Linked DNA regions of Homo sapiens. The protein of the gene in region 1 interacts with the protein of each later gene in a pairwise test. Each region holds a gene or a part of one and is shown on either strand. Other genes may lie near its edges.

Region 1 (4,415 bases):
AGGCCAGGAGTTTGAGACCCCGTCTCTACTAAAAAATATAAAAATTAGCAAGGCGTGGTGGCGAGCGCTTATAGTCCCAGCTACTGTGGAGGCTGAGGCAGGAGAATTGCTTGAACCTGGGAGGTGGAGGTTGCAGTGAGCCGAGATTGCGCCACTGCACCCCAGCCTGGGTGACAGAGCAAGACTCCATCTCAAAAAAAAAAAAACCAGTACAACAATAAAAAAAAAAACAAAATTTAAAAATACAATATAACAACTATTTACATAGCATTTACATTGTACTAGGTATTTTAAGTAATCTAGAGATGATTCAAAGTATACAGGAGGGTGTAGGTAGGTTATATGCAGTTACTATGCCAATTTATATAGAAGATGGGAACATATGCAGATTTTGGTATCAAGGGAGGTCCTGGAACCAGTCTCCCACAGTTGCCAAGAGACAGCTGTATGCTGAGAACTTTACTGCACTACCACAGTTCAGACTGTTCAACTTAGGCCTAGGCTTCTGCCCTTCATGGTGAGATAATGAATAGAACTCAGTCCTTTTGTCGCTGTGATACAAACAGGTAGTTTCACAGTAATCCTCTTTCTAAACAAAAAAATACATATTGTCATTCCCTTTTGAAGATACTGGGATATCTCTTAATAAAAAGGAGATGACACCCATTCCAGGTGTGGAAGAACCTGACTGTGCAGCTCTGATTGGCTGTTTCTCCCCCAGAGCCTGAACAGCCTATTTTAGTAGCATCTAGTGGGGTGGCTGATGAGGAGAGGATACTGTGAGTGTTCATTTCCTGTGGCATGTTGCCCAGGATGCCAGTATAGAAGTGCATATGAGCTGAATGGCAAATACAAGAAGAGCTGAATTGTTTCTGTCACCTAAGGCTCAGCTAAGTGACTCTCTGTCACTAGGGAGGAATGGGGTGGGCAGACCTTCAGCCACTTCAGGGGCCCGAAGAGCCAAGATGTTTCCTGATGTCAGCTAATGTCTCTGGCCCCCGCATGTCCCTATGGGGCTTGCAGCTTTTGGGAAGTCAGCTGAGTAATGGCTCTGCCACTGCTTTTAATACTGACGTAAATATGCAATTTGAGGAGCAGTGAATTGTATGCTTAGATAATCTAGAAATGTCATGTCCGTGAGGCCTGGGATCTCACCAGCAGCCTGTCTGTTTCCTGCCTACCTGCCCAAGACCTAGTACAAGTGACAGTGCACATGACCTGTCTTGTGGCTGAACCATGAGATTTTCAGTCACCTTCTTTTTTTTTCTTTTTTTTTTGAGACGGAGTCTCACTCTGTCGCCCAGGCTGGAGTGCAGTGGCGTGATCTTGGCTCACTGCGAGCTCCACCTCCCGGGTTCACGCCATTCTCCTGCCTTAGCCTCCCGAGTAGCTGAGACTGTAGGCGCCCACCACCACACCCGGCTAATTTTCTTGTATTTTTAGTAGAGACGGGGTTTCATGTGTTAGCCAGGATGGTCTCGATCTCCTGACCTCGTGATCCGCCTGTCTTGGCCTCCCAAAGTGCTGGGATTACAGACGTGAGCCACCATGCCCAGCCTCAGTCACCTTCTTAACCCCTGACAACAGCATTCTCCGCCTTAATCTTCAGTTTATTTTCAACTTTAATTTTATCAGTTTTTAAAGTAGGTAATGTATGCACAGGGAACAGAGGATTCAAGGGTAAGTAGTGAAAAATCTGCCTCCCACCTCTGCCTACCACCACTCAGTTCTCTTCCCTAGAGACAACCAATATGGATAGACTCTTGTGGAACCTTTCAGGGGGTCTCCAGATTTCTTTTTGGTTTTTGAGACAGAGTCTCACTCTTTCCCCCAGGCTGGAGTGCAGTGGCACAATCTTGTCTCACTGCAACCTTTGCCTCCCCGGTTCAAGCGATTCTCCTGCCTCAGCCTCCCAAGTAGCTGGAATTACAGGCATGTGCCACCACACCTGGCTAATTTTCTGTATTTTTAGTAGAGATGGGGTTTCACCATGTTGGCCAGGTTGGTCTCGAACTCCTGGCCTCAAGTGATCCATCCATCTTGGCCTCCCAAAGTGCTGGGATTACAGGCGTGAGCTACCATGCCAGCCGGGTCTCCAGATTTCTGTCTAAAGGAATAGTCAAGTTGTGTTGACCCTCACTGCTCCATAACTTTCTTCCTGTGATTCCTCCACTGTGGAAGAAATTGGGCTACTAAAGGAAAAATGTCCTCAAACATCCCTTAAAGATTTAAATTGCTAATTTAACTTAAACATAAACATTTTCCGATTCCCATAGTGGGGAGGATGGGGGAGGAAAGCATAAAAGATTTAAATTTTGCTACAGATGATCGTGAATTTTTTTTTTTTTCAAGATGGAGTTTCACTCTTTTTGCCCAGGCTGGAGTGCAATGGCGTGATCTCAGCTCACTGTAACCTCCACCTCCCGAGTTCAAGAGATTCTCCTGCCTCAGCCTCCTGAGTAGCTGGAATTACAGGTGTCCATCACCACACCCGGCTAATTTTTTGTATTTCTAGTAGAGACAGGGTTTCACCATGTTGGCTAGGCTGGTCTCAAACCCCTGACCTCAGGTGATCCACTCACCTAGGCCTCCCAGAGTGCTGGGATTACAAGCATGAGCCACTGTGCCTGGCCAATCCTGATTTTTCTACTATCCCTTTAAAACAATTTTAGCAGGAAGTAAAATCTTCTAAAACAGGAATGGACCAGGAAAGTGCACGGGCTGTAGCCCTTTCCTCCTCAATCTGGGAAGATCTCTTTGCACTTCAGACACTCCCAGGTTAATTGGGGCAATAGGCTTGCTTGGAGATTTTTCTTAAAATGTTTGGAAAACTAATTCCCAAATAGAATTCCACCCACACACACACCCCGACCCTAACCCCTGGGCCCACAGCCTGCCTTGGGTCAGTGAGGCTTTCTGCTCATGGCTTTTGAACTGCTGGAATAAGGGAAGTAAATTAAGAAAAACCTCATTAGAAACAATTTAGCTTCTCTCTTTATGGCATAACTACCCGCAGTAAAAGGGGAAAAAATGACCTAGCCATAGTTTGATGGGGCCCTGGCAGAGGCTTCATTTCTCCAAAAGGTAGATATTACTGGACACTCCTGAGATGAGAAACAGTACTTCCTTACAGTTTAGAAGATCCTGGAGTATGCTTGATTGTGTTCATTGACTGTTGGCGCACTTGAACTTACCTGAGTTTTTCCTAATGCTTCCCCCATCCTCCCTCCTCACCACCTTGCCTGGACACTAGTTTGCACAAGTAAGACCATTCAATGCTTCTTCTCTGCATGTTTTTTTCATCTGCCATCTCGCATGCAATGCTCTGCCACTGTGCTATTGTTGTAGCTAATCGTTTTAAATTCCAGTGAGTCCCTGGCTGGGTCACTGAGGGGCCTGCTGGCCTTATGTTTAAAGATCATTAATCAAGGGTTAGAAACAGCTATGATCCATGAATCATTGTCTCTTCCCCTTGTGAGGTCTGCAGAGTAAAACTGTCCAGTGGAGGATGGGATAGAAGCATGGAGGCTTTAAATGTTTTTGAACATGAGGCATTTAGGGGCTGGAGTTAGAAGGCAGTTTCCTTTCTCCTCCTCAGACTAAGATCAAATGAAGATTTTTTTATGGAATGACTTTTAGCTATTCTAGACAAGGATAGAAAACAAAAGGGATGACAGCCACAGTCCTCAGTTCTTGGCTGTATGTGGATTATCTCTGGGAAAAACTCATTTTAATATTCCCCTATGCTAGGTCTTTAGAGAAATGTAAATGGGATGAGAAGGAGGTTTATATGCAATTGTAAGATAACTTGGATTATTTGTGCTTTTGTGAGTCTTTCTGTTTCTGCACCCCTCCTTTTGAAATGGATGGATGGTCAGCAATATATTGATCCATCCCGGACAGTTTTACTCTACAGCTCTGTCCATCTTCCTTGTCATCATGGTTTTGAAGTACCCTGGCTGCAGTGTTGGCGTACAGCCTGAATAGGCTCAGAGAGTAACAGTGGCCACTTTCCCTGTCTGATTTAGAACCTCAGATCTTGCCCTCTGAGGCACAGCCACTTAGCCAAACAGCCCTGGGGGGTCTGGGAGTCCCTTAGTGAAAGAGACTGGGAGTCACGTACTAGGTAAGCTGGCACCCGGGGCCAGGGCACTTGAAATCTTCCAATCAAGGTGACTAGTACTACTCCAGGTTATGCAGGAATCATGCCTAAAATCTCATCAACCTTCAACCCACCCATAGGACAGACCTGGAGGTGGTATATACTATCTGCAAACTAATATACCACTTTTCCTTTTATTTGATTTTCTGTCCTCCCTATTCTGCCCAATCCGCATGGTTTGAAATTGAGCTTATGGCCCATTGTCTTCTTTCTCTCCTTGAGTTTCTCCCAAGCTGGTTTTAGCTTGGTGGGA
Region 2 (3,910 bases), on another chromosome or scaffold:
CCTTAGGTGATCCGCCCGCCTCGGCCTCCCAAAGTGCTGGGATTACAGCGTAAGCCACCGTGCCTGGCCTAGTTGTAGACTTTTGATAGCTTATGGTTGAATTTTTATGGGATTGGTTAATAGATTGGATTCATGAGGTAGCATGTAGGGCAACACATTCTATTTTGGATTTTTCATTTACTTTGTGTTTCCTTCCAGATACGAAGCTCCTAGAAGATGGAGTCATTTCTTAAAAATTTCTATATTTTCCCATTAGCCGTAGGATGTTCTCCATATACTAGCCACTCATTAAATAGTTGCTGAATGTAAGAAATACAGACTTGAATATGCAAGAGCCTATGCACTGAATTATTTTTATTTTATTACTTTATTTTATTTTATTTTTTGAGACAGGGTCTCACTCTGTCACTCAGGCTGGAGTGTAGTAGCACGATTATGGGTCACTGCAGCTTGCACTCCCAAGCTCAAACAGTCTTCACACTTCAGCTCCCAAAGTAGCTGGGACTACAGGCTTGTGCCACCATGCCCAGCTAATTTTTTTTGTTGTTGTTGTTAGAAATGGGATCTCACTATGTTGCTCCGGCTGGTCTTGGAACACCTGGGCTCAAGCAATTCTCCTGCCTTGGCTTCCCAAAGTGCTGGGATTACACCTGTCAGCCGCCATGCCTGGCCTTGAATTATTTTATAAGTAGGATATAATTACATGTAAATTTACCTTGCAAGTTTTTTCCTATTTGATTTTTTGGTGACATTTATGTTCTGTAAAGTTTTGCAGTACTTTTCATATTTGCATAATTCATGCAAGGAACATAGTTTTGCTTTTTTCTTCTTAAGTAATATACTTTGTAGAAAATTTGGATGAGGTAACAGCTTTGTTTTGAATCATTTACAACATGAATTTTTTCTCATTTGATTTTTAAAGTCAGGTTTATTGAGTTTTAATACATATATGGTACAAGTCACCCTTTTTAGGTGTAAAGGTTTATGAATTACAATAAACTTACATAGTCATGTAACCACCACAATGTAAAATTTTCCTTGTACCCTCTGTAGTCAGTCCTGTCCCTCCACTACTAGCCTTTGGTAAACACTGATATATTTTCTGTCCCTCTAGTTTTTGCCTTTTCCAGAATGCCATATAAGGGGCATTATGTAGTATATAGCCTTTTGTGTTTGACTTCTTGGTACTAGAAGTCCTAATACATTTGAAAATCATCAGTGTTATTGTGTTTTGTCAGTACTTTGTTCCTTCTTATTACTGAGTAATATTCTAGAGTATGAAAGAATCATAATTTGTTCATCCATTCACCAACTGATGGATTTCTGGATTGTTTCTAGTTTTAGGCAGTGGTGAATATGGCTGTAAACATTTGTATACAGGTGTTGGTGCAACCTAAGTCTTCACTCTTTTGGGTAAATTTAAGGGAAAAGATCAACTGTTGTACCCTGGTAACAGTGGATGTATCCACATAGGCTGCATAGGCCAGTGCTTGAACTGCATCTGATCTGAATCTTGGCCGAGCACTTTGTGATCCTCTTGGAATATAAGATTATGGAAGTTTGCGAGGACCTTATGTGAAGCCCTTTCTCAATCTCTTCATCTGCCGAGGAGGCTGTACGTGATAACAGTGCCTCATCACCTCCTAGTTCCCATGAGATGAGGCTCTCTATTGTACCCTTTTAGGTAGTAGCTGCAGGCTGTAAGACTTTAGTTGCAGCATGGCATTGGCTCCTCCGCAACAGAGTGTCATATCTATGTTGTAGTCACCTGGCTCCTTTTGTTTTAGTATTGCTTTACACAAGGGCTGTATCTTTTACTACTATTCCTTCTGCCCTCCATGTAAATGGTAGGCTTTCTGAACCTAACAAGCAGTTGGGCAGGTCTATCACATTGCCTTCTCTTTGCCTTGACAATAAATATCTAATAGTGGGATTATTACCGTATGGTAAATGTGTGTTTAGTTTTATACAAATTGCCAAACTCTTTTCCAAAAACGATGGTACCGTTTTGCGTTCCCACCAGCAAAGATCCAGTTGTTCTTCATCTTTGTCAGCATTTGGTTTTGTCAGGTTTTAAAATTTTAGCTATTCTCTTGTTAGTGATGTCTCAAAGGCCATATATGACAAGCCTACAACTAACATCATACTCAACCATGAAAAGTTGAAACCTTTTCCTCTAAGATCAGGAATAAGACAGTGGTGCCCAGTGTCACTAGTTCTATTTAATCAAGTACTGCAAAGTACTAGAAGTCCTAGCCAGCCAGTTAGGAAAGAAAAATAAACAAAAGGCATCAAAATTGGAAGAAGTTAAATTGTCTCTGTTTGCAAATGACATGATTCCTTATGTATACAAAACCCTAAAGACTCCACCAAAAGACTGTTAGAATTAATTAACGAATTTAGTAAAGTTGTAGGAGACAAGATCAACATACAAAAATCTGTTGTGTTTCTACATATTAACTACAAACGATCTGAAAAATTAAGAAAACATTTCCATTTATAACAGCAGAAAGAATAGAATACTTAGGAATAAATGTAATCAAGGAGGTGAAAGGTCTGTACACTAAAAACTATAAGACATTTATGAAAGTAATTGAAGAACATGCAAATAAATGGGAAGATATCCCGTGCTCATGAATTGGTAGATTTGATATTGTTAACATGTCCATACTACACAAAGCCATCTACAGATTTAATGCAATCTCTATCAATATTCCAATGGTATTTTTCACAAAAATAGAAAAACCCTAAAATTCATAGGAAACCACAAAATACTTTGAATAGCCAAAGCAGTTTTGAATAAGAACAAAGTTGGAGGTATCATACTTCCTGATTTCAAACTATATTACAAAGCTATAGGCCTGGCATGGTGGTTCATGCTTGTTATCCCAGCAGTTTGGGAGGCCTAGGTAGCCAGATCACCTGAGGTCAGGAGTTCAAGACCAGCCTGGCCAGCGTGGAGAAACCTCATCTCTACTAAAAATACAAAAATTATAGGGCATGCTGGCACACGCCTGTAGTCCCAGCTACTCAGGAGGCTGAGTTGGGAGAATCGCTTGAACCCAGGAAGTGGAGGTTGCAGTGAGCTGAGATCATGCCACTGCACTCCATCCTGGGCAACAGAGCGAGACTCTGTCTCAAAAAAAGCTATAGTAATCAAAACAGTGTGTTACTGGCATAAAAGACATGTAGACTAATGGAACAGAATGGAGCCCGGAAATGTAGCCACATCTGTGCAGTCAACTAAGCTTTGATAAAGGCACCAGGTACACAATGGGGAAAGGATAATTCAGTAAATGGTATTGGGAAAACTATATCCACATGCAAAAGAATGAAATTTGATTGTTATATCACACATACAAATTAGCTAGAAATGGATTAAAGACTTAAATGTAAGATCTGAAATTATAAAACTCTTTGGTATGGGTCAGATGTTTGTTCCCTTCAAATCTCTTGTTGAAATGTGATTCCCAGTGTTGGAGGTGGGTCTTGGTGGGAGATAATTGGATTATGGGGGCAGATCCCTCATGAATGATGTAGCACCATCCCTTTAGTGATAAGTGAGTTCTTGCTTGGTTCACGTGAGAACTGGTTGTTTAAAATTAGTCTGGGAGCCCCCCCACCATGTGACATGCTGGCTCCACTTCTGCCATGATTACACCTCACCAGAAGTACGTGCCAGCACTGTGCTTTGTGTAAAGCCTGCAGAACCAAGAGCCGATTAAACCTCTTTTCTTTATAAATTACCCAGCCTCAGGTATTCCTTCATACGATCATAAGAATGGACTGATACACTCCTAGAAGAAAACATAGGGGAAAAAGCTCCTTGATTCTGGTCTTGACAATGGTTTTTATAAATATGACACCAAAAGCACAGGCAACAAAAGCAAGAAAAGATGAGAGTGACTAC
Region 3 (2,899 bases), on another chromosome or scaffold:
CAGAAACATTTTGAGCTCAACACACTAGCTGGAAACTCTCTCTATAAAATACATACTAATAGAATCTATCTCAAAATATTTCCTCAAAATTATCACAAAGTAAATGTTTATCAGAAGCATAGGCTGCATGTTAGTCTGATAATTTTAGATTTTGAGATATTACAGGATTAAAAGTACTAACCCACTGCTAAGTCAGAGAAAAACCATTGGAATAAAATTTAATAGTTGTGGAAAGTTTCCAGGGAATCTAGCTCAATTTTTTAAAGAGTTTTACTCTGAGATTTTATTAGTCAAGTAACTATTATTGAATATACCCCAAGGACAAGGAAAAGTTACAAGAAAAAATAAACTTTTGAGACTTTTGTCTCATAAGTTACATAAATAATAAAAATGTTTAATTACATTCCCTACCACATGGGAATGTTTGAGTCAGAGTGCCATGGCCTGAAATGTTTCATCCAGAAAGAAAGGGTTGCCCACTGTCACACAGAATGAAACTAGGAAGCATTTAAAATAGAAGGGCATTTGTGAGAAATGAAGAACAATCCTATCTTATTCACCATCTCACAATGTGTTTTGTTTTGTTCTTTAGAGACAGGGTCTTGTTCGCTTGCCCAGGCTGCTGTGCCGTGTCACAATCAGAGCTCACTGTAGTCTTGACCTCCTGGGCTCAAGCTAGCCTCCCACCTCAGCCTCCCAAGTAGCTAGAACTACAGGCATGCATCAGGGTCTTGACATGTTGGCCAGGATGTTTTCGCACTCCTGCCTCAAGCAATCCTCCTACCTCAGCCTCCCAAAGTGCTGGGATTACAGGCATGAGACACTGTGCCCTGCCAGTTTCCTCATGGAAATACAGTTAATTCCCAAACTAGATACAGGTGCCTCAATTACAAATATGCATTCAAAGGGAGTTTTAAAAAAATTTATTGGCTATGTTTGATTATCCACAACAGAATTTCCCTTAATTAGCACAGGAAATTGAAAGTTGGTTATAATTTAATATCTCTGCTCGTCTTCAACAGACATACTCAGCATTTATACTTGTAAATAGAATTGAGTTTTCATTGTTTCGTTTTCTGTTTTTGTTTCCTTAGGAACAAGAGGATGAAGGAAATATGGTCAGCATTTTAATAACACCATAAATCCAAGATAATAAGTAATTCTATAAAGTTTTCCAGTTTCATTAATTCAGAATTTCATCATATAACTTGAAATCCAATTGGCTTCCTCTTTCTTAGAAACAAAAACCAAAGAAACCTTTTTCTGAAAGACATTATTTTCCAGTATTAGGCCAATTTGTCCTCAAATTAAGTAGAATCTCAACATCTTGTTGAGCCAGTTTGTAAATTCCAACTTCATTTAATGCTGCTGTGGCAGGAAGCTGCCCTGAAGCTGACTGCAGTACATCTTTCAGCAGTAGTGCAGAACCGACGTTCAAATTCAAAACAATACAGGCTTCTTTTATACTGTTTAGGGAAAACAAAGGAGGGAAATGAGATCTCCATTATCTGCATCAATTATATTACAATTTTGAGAATCCTAAACAGCTTCTCTGCACTGCTGGTCCACATGTTCTCTATAAAAATATTTATGGATTTATTATTTGGTTCTTTTAACATGGTAAGACTACACAGGTGCAGAGTTGCTATTTCTTTAGATTACTATAAGGTAATACGATCCCTATTTCAATATGTATCCGTTATTTCCCTAAATACAATACTTAATATTAACACTATATTAAATATAGCTATAACTTTAGGTAGATTAGAACATGGGAAAAGACAAAAATAAGAGATAAATGAAAGCAGCAGAAAGAACATTAAAATAAATTTTAAAAACAGTCCTATGAAACGTGTAAACATAAGCTTTCATTTTATAAGTCTAAAAGGAATGCTTTATAACCTCACAAAACCCAAACATAATTTAAATTTTACTTTTTTTTTTTGAGACATGGTCTTGCTCTGTCACCTAGGCTGGAGTGAAACTGCACGATCATAGCTCACTACAGCCTCAGCCTCTCAAGTAGCTAGGACTACAGGTCCACACCCCCACACCTGGCTTTTTTTTGTTTGTTCATTTTAATACTTTCTGTAGAGATGGAGTCTTGCTATGTTGCCCAGGCTGGTCTCAAACAGCTGGCCTCAAGCAATTCTCCCACCTCTGCCTCCCAAAGTACTGGGATTACAGATGTGGGCTACTATGCCTGGCCTATAAATTTTAGATCAACAAATTCTGAAACTATAATTATATTTAGAACCAAAATTAATGTCAAATGTTTAAGGAAACAAATTTCTTTCAGGCCTGGCCTATTAGGTATTAAACATATTTGTAATTTTTTTTTTTTTTTGAGACAGTCTTGGCTCACTGCAAGCTCCGCCTCCCGGGTTCACATCATTCTCCTGCCTCAGCCTCCCAAGCAGGTGGGACTACAGGTGCCCGCCACCAGGCCTGGCTAATTTTTTTTTTTTTGGTATTTTTAGTAGAGATGGGGGTATCACTATGTTAGCCAGGATGGTCTCGATCTCCTGACTTTGTGATCTGCCCAACTCAGCCTCCCGAAGTGTTGGGATTACAGGCGTGAGCCACCACGCCCGGCCCTGTAATTTCTTATATTTAGTGAATAGGGCACAACTGTACTTGTTTTCATTTTCTATTTATTCCTCCAGTAACTAAGCAACTAGAAGCATTAAACCAAATACTAGAAAACAAAACCCAACAGGTAATTTATATCTAGTTCTGAAACTTTTTGAGGTCATGGGTCACATCTATCATCTTGGTTTCCCCATTGTGCTGTAAGCATACAGTAGATAGACAATGTTTTAAAATTTCAACTGATCTTATCCCACCCAAACATCTCCAGAACCCTAAAGTTAAAAGGAGTTAGCCTCCTGTAACAATT
Region 4 (3,625 bases), about 65 Mb from region 1:
ATGGTGAAACACCATGGCTACTAAAAATACAAAAATTAGCCGGGTGTGGTGGTGCATGCCTGTAGTCCCAGCTACTCAGGAGGCTGAGGCAGGAGAATTGCTTGAACCTAGGAGGTGGAGGTTGCAGTGAGGTGAGACCGTGCCACTGCACTCTAGTCTGGGTGACAGAGCAAGACTCCGTCTCAAAGGAAAAAAAAAAAGGGAATACAAAAGAGACGGAGAAAGCAGTAAACAGTAGTATAATTTAAGAAGCTGACCCCAGAATATATTCTGTATTCCCATGTTTCTTCTATGGGGTTTTACTTCCTTTCAGCAATTTCTTCAAAGAGGTAGTTTATTCTGCAGTACACTTGTTAAGTCTCCTCTGAACATCCTAGAAAGGTTTTTCCATCAGAGCCTCTATCCAACTGGTTCCATTCATTAGTTTAGTGGTGGCAATGACATATTCTGTACCTCCATCTTCCAACTGGGAGAGAAATCGCAGGGCAGCAATTTCAGCGAAGGTTACGCCCCCAAGGAAAAATATCAGAGTCACTCGGTTTTCTCCCGGTTGACCTAAAATTTAAACATTTCAGAATTAAAAACTATTTATTATTAATGCTTCTCTTCCCACCTCTTCAAACATTTTATCATTCATAAGAATAAACAAGTGCCTTCATCCAGACAGTTCATCTGAAACCTAAGAATACTGATTTTGATCTCAACATTTTTTTTTAACTTCTGAGATTCTCAACACAGAAGTTGAAAGCTGCTATCCCTCAGGGAATAATCCGATTCGAGTTCTTACTACATACATTAGCAACGAACAAAAGAGGTGTATTTAATTCTGACTCCTAAGTGCTTTACTATTTTACAAAGCAACTGTACAATACCTGAAAACCACACTAACAGTACATAATTATCTGTAGATGCTGGACTGGGACTTACGTTTCTTCTGCAGTCCTGTGGGCAGTGGCTGCCGCTCCTCAAAGTGGGGCCCTGGGAGGATGCGGAGGACCTCCTCGATGCTCCGCCAGCCAGGCCGGGAAAGCAGCTGGGCCAGCCGCACACTGAGCGGGGCATACCCACTGTACACATACGATATGTCCGTGGGGTTCTGTGAGATAATTAAAGAACAAAAACCCTATAGATACAGAGACTTAGAGCTACCTGACTGTGGCCTTTTGGGTAATCCAAAATTATTTGATTTGGATTTAAAGATATACAACCCCCACCCCTGCCATGCCTTGTTCTAATCCACCCTAGCTGGGCTCAATTTTTAGCAGCCAGAGCTTCAATTTTGACTGAAATCTTGAAAAGCCACTCAAAGCAGCTCTAGGTACAGAAGATGAAGAATTATTTGGTTTGGCATGAAACTTTTTTTTTTTTTTTGAGACAGAGTCTGGCTCTGTCACCCAGGCTGGAGTGCAGTGGCATAATTTCAGCTCACTGCAACCTCCGCCTCCCTAGTTCAAGCAATTCTCCTGCCTCAGGCTCCCAAAGAGCTGGGATTACAGGTGTGCACCACCACTCCTGGCTCATTGTTGTATTTTTAGTAGAGACAGGGTTTCACCATGTTGGCCAGGCTGGTCTTGAATTTCTGACCTCAGGTGATCCACCTGCCTCGGCCTCCCAAAGTGTTGGGATTACAGGCCTGAGCCACCGCGTCCAGCCAGCATGAAACATATTGGGGGGAACTTGGCACTCCCTAGCTGAGCAATGATGTGCAATAACCTTTGAACTTAGCAATTCTACTTTTAGGCATTAATCCTACAGAGGTGCTTGCAGAACAAAAGATAATAGACCAAAGTATAAACGTATTAACTGCAACACTGCATGTAACAGTAAAGACTGGAAACAACCTGAATTTCTATCAATAGCAATCTGTTAAATCATTAAATAAGGTATAGCCTCAAAACCACTATGTAGCAATTTAGAAAAATTAAAAAGAAGGGGAAGATCACAGAAGACCCTTCAAGATCCTTTGTTAAGTGGTGGGTGGGTCCAGAGTCAGAAAGGTCAGAACAGTGAAGACAGCTGAACTAATATGTACATGATAGACTCTAGACATTAAGGGTCTCTATTTTCCCACCGGGAAAAAATCATTTAATTTTGCTCCTGACAGAGGAGACTGTCTAGTTATGAGCTTTTGTTGCAAGAGGCGGCCTAATAAAGTTCCTTATGAAAAACCAAAAAAGACTGAAATTTAGAAACATTAGAATAAGTAATAAATGTAAAGCAAAGTGCACCCCACTTTGGAGACCAACAGTAGAGAATATGCACTCTTTATGTAAAAATGTATATGCACAGAATCTTTCTGGAAGGATAGATAAAAAACTGGCCACAGTGGCTGCCTCTGAGGGGAAACTGTGGAAGGAAACTCACTTGGCCCTGATGGCCCTGCTTTTGCATAGCTTTTTTTTTCCCTTTTTCTTTTTCTTTTTGAGATAGGGTCTCATTCTGTCGCCCATGCTGGAGTGCAGCAGTGCAATCTCAGCTCACTGTAGCCTCAACCTCCCAGGCTCAGCCTCCTGGGAGGCTCCCACCTCAGCCTTCTGAGTACAGTAGCTGGGCCTACAGATGCATGCTCCACCATGCCCTGATCACTTTTGTATTTTTTAGTAGAGACAGGGTTTCACCATGTTGGCCAGGCTGGTCTTGAACTCCTGACCTCAAGTGATCCTCCTGCCTTGGCCTCCCAAAGTGCTGGAATTACAGGTGTGAGCCACCGCGCCTGGCCATGGCTGGCTTGTTTATGAGTGCTGGACATCTCCACTGACTCCTCTAGACACTCTCCACCCTTCTCCGCAATGCTCTGTGCCCGGAGATGGACCTGTGCGTCCCACACCAACACACTCCAATGCCTTCTCTTTGGGTCTGACCAAGACAAAGCACCAGAGTGAACTGGAGAGTGGGCAGCAGTGTGAGGATGACGTTGTCACTGGCCAGCTTCCTCTGCTGGAGGTTGACCATACCCTCAGCCAGAGGCCCCTCACCCCTTACCTCACCAGATGGCCTCACCACAGCTCTTCTCTCCAGGTTCTAAGACAAGTTTCTAGAACACCCCCCTCTCCTTGTCCTTCAGGCCGTGGCTGGCAAGGGCTCCCCACTGCACTGCCTCTCCACTCTTCCCACATCTTTATTTATTTGAGACAGAGTCTTACTGTGTAGCCCAGCCTGGAGTGCAGTGGCACAAACATGGTTCACTGCAACCGCCTCCTGGGCTCAGTGATCCTCTAACCACAGCCCCTCGGACTAAAGGCTCATACTACCACTGGCCATTTTTTTTGTAGAGACAAGGTTTTGCCATGTTGCCCAGGCTGGTCTCGAACTCCTGGACTCAAGCGATCTGACCCTTCAGCCTCCCAATATACTGGGATTACAAGAATGAGCCACCGAGCCTGCCCCATAACTTTTTTTTTTTTTTTTTTGAGACAGAGTCTTGCTCTGTCGCCCAGGCTGGAGTGCAATGGCATGATCTGAGCTCACTACAACCTCCGCCTCCCAGGTTCAAGCAATTCTCCTGCCTCAGCCCCCCAAGTAGATGGGATTACAGGCACGCACCACAATGCTGGGCTAATTTTTGTATTTTTAGTAGAGATGGGGTTTCCCATGTTAGTCAGGCTGTTCTCAAACTCCTGAGCTC

Evidence for each region. Proteins that work in one complex are often made in the same cells at the same time.
Region 2: the proteins of DCTN2 (region 1) and ABI2 interact in binary tests that used the Homo sapiens proteins (3 or more experiments, as listed by UniProt).
Region 3: the proteins of DCTN2 (region 1) and RINT1 interact in binary tests that used the Homo sapiens proteins (3 or more experiments, as listed by UniProt).
Region 4: the proteins of DCTN2 (region 1) and VPS33A interact in binary tests that used the Homo sapiens proteins (3 or more experiments, as listed by UniProt).

The regions. Positions count from the first base shown.
Region 1 is NC_000012.12:57,540,211-57,544,625, reverse strand, and holds part of DCTN2 (dynactin subunit 2), read left to right. Parts: intron 1-1,635; exon of another isoform or gene 1,636-1,650; coding exon of another isoform or gene 1,651-1,680; intron 1,681-3,253; coding exon of another isoform or gene 3,254-3,262; intron 3,263-4,415. UniProt on the Homo sapiens protein: Part of the dynactin complex that activates the molecular motor dynein for ultra-processive transport along microtubules. In the dynactin soulder domain, binds the ACTR1A filament and acts as a molecular ruler to determine the length.
Region 2 is NC_000002.12:203,334,891-203,338,800, forward strand, and holds part of ABI2 (abl interactor 2), read left to right. Parts: intron 1-3,910. UniProt on the Homo sapiens protein: Regulator of actin cytoskeleton dynamics underlying cell motility and adhesion. Functions as a component of the WAVE complex, which activates actin nucleating machinery Arp2/3 to drive lamellipodia formation.
Region 3 is NC_000007.14:105,565,686-105,568,584, reverse strand, and holds the end of RINT1 (RAD50-interacting protein 1), read right to left. Parts: intron 2,263-2,899; exon of another isoform or gene 1,467-2,262; coding exon 1,274-1,466; 3' UTR 1,132-1,273; coding exon of another isoform or gene 1,095-1,131; 3' UTR 908-1,094; downstream 1-907. Other genes in the region: EFCAB10 (EF-hand calcium-binding domain-containing protein 10), read left to right, coding at 1,095-1,118. UniProt on the Homo sapiens protein: Involved in regulation of membrane traffic between the Golgi and the endoplasmic reticulum (ER); the function is proposed to depend on its association in the NRZ complex which is believed to play a role in SNARE assembly at the ER.
Region 4 is NC_000012.12:122,231,873-122,235,497, forward strand, and holds part of VPS33A (vacuolar protein sorting-associated protein 33A), read right to left. Parts: intron 1,097-3,625; coding exon 928-1,096; intron 556-927; coding exon 374-555; 3' UTR 1-373.